Linked DNA regions of Homo sapiens: region 1 is linked to region 2. Evidence: fine-mapped expression QTL. Tissue or cell type: whole blood. Region 2 holds a variant in brackets; the other region holds the start of a gene. All regions are shown on one strand. Distances are from middle to middle.

Region 1 (2,610 bases), 130 kb after region 2:
AGACCTCATCTCTAAAAAAAAAATAAGTAAATAAAAACAAATGTGAGTGACTTCACTCTTCTCTCCCAGAGCCTCCAGTTGTCACTTTTCTGAGTTTCTTCAGGGTCTCTTGAACTGTACTCAGGGTGTCAAGAGGTACAGTTGGGAAGGATGGGGGCCTCTAATGAGGGGGTTAAGAGCATCATTCTGGAGGAGACATGAGGGAGGCAGCAGAGAGGGGCTGTGGTGTGGCCTTCACACACTGCAACTCCTGGAGGTCGGGCAGGGGCAGGATGTCCAGACAGTGGACGCATGAGTGGGGAAGCCTTCAGCCACCCTGACTCCACCTAGGAGGTGCCCCAAGGCAGAACCAGCAGCTGAGCCTGGCCAGCCCCGGCAGCGATGAGAGACAGTAGGTTTTGGGGTGACCAACAGGGAGCCCCAGCAGGAGCCCAGCAGGAGAGAGAAGCTGGATATTGATCCTGCTGGCCCCTCCTGCAGTCCGCAGGACTGTCCACAGCCCTCGCTCCTCTTAAGCAGCTCACCTGCCTTGGTGGCCCCTCCCCTCCTGGCCCCTCCTTTTGGGCCTGGGTTGGGGGTGGCAGGGGTCCTGTCCCTGCACCCGGAGTGGAGTGGGATATGGCACTGGAATGTTTCTAGGCAGCCCACTCCTGTAAGAGGGCCTGGGGCTGGGCCCAGTAGTTCACACCTGTAATCGCAGCACTTTGGGAGGCTGAGGCAGGAGGATCGCTTGAGCCTCGGAGTTCGAGAGCAGCCTGGGCAACATAGAGACCCCACTTCTACTTGAGAGACACACAGAGAGAGAGAGAGGGAGGGAGGGAGAGAGGGAGGGAGGGAGAGAGAGAGGGAGGGAGGGAGAGAGAGAGGGAGAGAGGGAGGGAGGGAGAGAGAGAGAGAGAGAGAGAGAGAGAGAGAGAGAGAGAGAGAGAGAGAGAGAGAGAGAGAGAGAGAGAGAGAGAGAGGGAGAGAGAGAGAGAGGGAGGGAGGGAGGGAGGGAGAGAGAGAGGCTTCTGGTAAATGCTCCTATTTTGCAAACTCTCTTCCTATTTTGTGATTAGGATGCTCCATCAGTTTCTGCCACCAGCTTGCTGGAGACGCTGCGTGTCCCTGACTCCTCTCAAAGGGTGAAAAGCTCAGTCGCACCCGAGACCTGCTCCTCAGGCAGAGGATGAACTGAGTCCCCGCCCCACCGCCCGTCTGGCCTCTGTGAGAGTGGCGTGCAGGCTGACCCTGGAAGCAGAGGGACATTCGAACGGGCCGGCGGCCTTCTCCCCGCTAGGCTGGGCTCCGGGGTGGGCGGAGAGTGGCCGCCACAGGCCATCAGCGTCCGGGGTTCTGGAAGCAGGGAGGGCAGAGGCTGGCCCAGCCTATGGGAGACCCTGCAGAGGCGTGGCCTCCAGGCTAATCCTACCCCAGCTGCCCCAGGGCGGGATTTCTTTTCTTTTTTCCTTTAATCTCTTTATCTACAGGCGCCGAGGCTTAATGAGCTCCAGATGTCTCAACATACCAGGAGAGGTTTAGGATCCCCTGCCAAATACAAGGGAGATAAGAACGCACCAGACTTGCACAAACCAGAGCTGGTGACCCCCAGTTCCCTTTAAATCAGCGACATGTCATTACAAGGCGGAAGTCCTGCCCGAGAGGACAGTCCCCAGGCCTTGCTAAGCATGCGTGGTATCAAGAGGTGCATTGAGGCGCTCCTGCAGCCTCCTCCCGGCACGGGACTCCTCACAACCCCCAGCCTCAGCTTCCCTGACAGGGCAGGGGCTCACTCTTCTCCACTCCGGGCCAGGAACGCAGCCTGCTTGCCTTTTGTCCAATTGGGTGCTCTTTCTTTGCGACTGATACAAAGTGGGAACAAACTCCGCTTCCGGTGATGCCCGGGCCCCAGGAGGCTGGGGGAGAAGTGCACGCTGCCCAGCCTTCAACCTGAACTGCCCCCAGCACTTCCGAGCCCCGACCCCTGCAGCTGTGAGGTGAGGTGGGGAGGGGGCGGCCTGCGGGGAGGGGGCTGCCTGCGGGGAGGGGGCTGCCTGCAGGGCGGGCCGTGTGGGTCCCCCGAGCGTGGGGGACCAGTGACGTCAGGCAACATTTCTCCAAAGGCTCCCTCACCTTGTCCTTTGGCATCTGGGGTGCTCAGAGGAAGGGGGAAGCCGGGAGGGTGTGGAGAGGGTCACTGGAGAGGGGAAAGGCCAGAGTGATCCCCTTGGGGACGAGGCAGAGGAAAAGCTGTGGAGACCTAAAGAGAAGAGGTGGGGTGCGCCTGGGCCTCTCAAGTTTGTTTCCCAGAACCAGGGAAGGTTACAGTGGAAGGGAGGACCCTGTGGGGAAGAAGCTTCCAGAGACCTTCTGGAGAGGTGAGCCAAAGGCGAGCCATGGCCAGAAACCCCAGGCCTGCTGCAGTGGAGAGTCAGTGCTGCAGGAGGCTTGGGAATCAGGGCTGCCCTCCTTGGGCTGAACCCTCTATCTAGGGGACAATGGCCCTGGGCAAAAGCACTGCTTTCTGGGCCCCCTGGAGGGTAGGGCATGACACTGTGGTGCTAGAGGCAGGGGGGACATGAGGAGGTAGACGAATGTCCTGAGTCACCAGGTACAACCACTGCACCCCAT
Region 2 (2,751 bases):
TTTAGTTTTCATGCAGCAAGCAGCCAAGCCTGGGTTCAGCTACACTAAGGCATGAACTGGACACAGGACATGGATTGCTTTTCTTTCTTTGGTTTTAGCAATTGTAATGAGTTTCTGCAGCTTGCTGACTGCTTAGCCTATCACGTTAGTTTGCTTTGGCTGCAATAACAAAGTACCCTGGACTGGGTGGCTTAAACAACAGAAAGTTGTTTTTTCACAATTCCAGAGGCTAGAAGACTTAGATGAAGGTGTTCGGGGGGATGGTTTCTGCTCAAGCTTCTCTTCTTGGTTTATTGACCAAATCACAGAGACACCCTCTGTTTGTGCCTGGGTTCTAATCCCTTTTCCTCCAAGGACACCTGTCATATTGGATTAGGGTCTACCTCAATGACCTGGTTTCACATTATTTATCTCTTTAAAGACTCTGTCTTCAAATACAGTAATATTCTGAGGTCCTGGGCTTAGGATTTCAACACAGAAATTTCTGGGAGACGCAACACATGTATAACACCCATGATCCTTATAAAATCCCTGATCTCCAGAACCACCCACACCCCTACACTCCCGTGCCGAAGAGACACCTGGAAAAGGTTGATGGTCTCTGTGCCACTCTGAAAATTAATGGAGATTATCACTTTCCCCAGAAGGTACTTGTCTCATATCAACATCTTACCTCCAGGGAAAGGACCACTCACTCTCCAGAAACTTCTCCTACTAATCTTGTCCAGGATTCTACCGTGACCTTCTACGCTGCATCTCTAACCATCACAACCACTCTTTTTCCTTGGTTACACAAAAATGCCACTAATCTTTACATATACTTTACTAATTTACCAATTGTTATGCTCCAAAAACATAATTGATCAACCTGCTACCTTGACACAAGCAACACACCAAGTATTATTCTTCAAATATATGTGTAGTTCTCAGGTGTATTGAAATTATGTTGTACAAATTCAATGCAATTCCCATCAAAATACCACCATCATTCTTCACAGAACTAGGAAAAACAGTCCTAAAACTCGTATGGAATCAAAAAAGAGCCCCCATAGCCAAAGCAAGACTAATCAAAAAGAACAAATCTGGAGGCATCACATTACCTTATTTCAAGTTATACTATAAGGCCATAGTCACCAAAACAGCATGGTACTGGTATAAAAGTAGGCACATA[G/T]ACCAAGGAACAGAATAGAGAACCCAGAAATAAACCCAAATAGTTACAGCCAACTGACCTTCAACAAAGCAGACAAAAACATAAAGTGGGGAAAGGGCATCCTATTCCACAAATGGTGCTGGGATAATTGGCAAGCCACATGTAGGAAAATGAAACTGGATCCTCATCTTTCACCTTACACAAAAATCAACTCAAGATGGATCAAGGACTTAAATCTAAGACCTGAAACTATACAAATTCCAGAAGATAGCATTGGAAAAACCCTTCTAGACATTGGCTTAGGCAAGGATTTCATGACCGAGAACCCAAAAGCAAATACAATAAAAACAAAGATAAATAGCTGGGACTTAATTAAACTAAAGAGCTGTTGCACTGCAAAAGGAACAGTCAGCAGAGTAAACAGACAACCCACAGAGTGGGAGAAAAGCCTCACAATCTATACATCTGACAAAGGACTAATATCCAGAATGTACAATCAACTCAAACAAATTAGCAAGAAACAAACAAACAAACCCATCAAAAAGTGGGCTAAGGACATGAATAGACAGTTCTCAAAAGAAGATAAACAAATAGCCAACAAACATATGAAAACATTCTCAACATCACTAATGATCAGTCAAATGCAAATCAAAACCACAATGTGATACCACCTTACTCCTGCAAGAATGGTCGTAATCAAAAAATAAAAATAAGAAAATAGATGTTGGCATGGATGCAATGAACAAGGAACACTTCTAAATACTGGTGGGAATGTAAACTAGTACAGCCACTATGGAAAACAGTGTGGAGATTTCTTAAAGAACTAAAAGTAGAACTACCATTTGATCCAGCAATCCACCCAGAAGAAAAGAAGTCATTATACAAAAAAGACACTTGCACACGCATGTTTATAGCAACACAGTTTGCAAGTGCAAAAACGTGGAACCAACCCAAACACCCATCAATCAACAAGTGGATAAAGAAACTAATGCTAGTGCTTTCTCAATAATGACATCCAAGCATCACCAGGCCAATCATGTAATCATCCTTGTTATTTTCTGTGCTTCTGATGCTTTTCTGGGCTTGCATCCTGGACAGGATGCCCTACCAGGGCTGGCCAGTTACTACAGATGGTCAAGGTCCCCCCTGGTGAATGCCTTTCCTGTGAAGTCTTGCCAGCCACCTTGTTGCACACTCCAGGCCACAGCTCCCCTGAACAGATTCCCCCAGAGTCAGGCACCAGACAGCCAGAGACAATCCCTGTGACTCGCAGCCCTGGGTAATCATGCAAAGCAATCAGTCCCAAGCCTGCCTACCCTGCTTTCACTGGCTCCTCCCCCAGGAAGAACTAGAACCTCTGCCTTCAGATTGACCCGGATGCTTCCAATGAGGTCATGATGGCAAGAACAGCCCTGCCACTGCACGCTGTCAGTAACAGACTATTTCTTCAATCACAGTCTTCTCCTGGCCTGTGGGCCTCACCACAACTGAGTAATAATTAAGCTTACATTTAAAAACACAAAAATTTACATGTGGGACAGAGTTGCATGGAATTAGGCAGGCACACACACACACACACACACACACACACACCCATTCGC

The links. PIP is the estimated chance that this variant, and not a neighbour inherited with it, causes the effect.
Region 1: LY6S-AS1 starts here. The variant in region 2 is fine-mapped to the expression of LY6S-AS1 in whole blood (TOPMed, PIP 0.97).

What each region holds. Positions count from the first base shown.
Region 1 is chr8:143,037,594-143,040,203 of GRCh38, forward strand. It overlaps LY6S-AS1 (LY6S antisense RNA 1), which reads left to right and starts at 1,616. Exons shown (of 6, transcript NR_149322.1): 1 at 1,616-1,976. RefSeq lists an enhancer at 1,288-1,839.
Region 2 is chr8:142,907,605-142,910,355 of GRCh38, forward strand. No RefSeq gene overlaps it. Among named protein-coding and RNA genes, the nearest start is that of CYP11B2, 8.9 kb to the right of the region's middle. The variant G/T (reference allele first, on the strand shown) is at 1,172.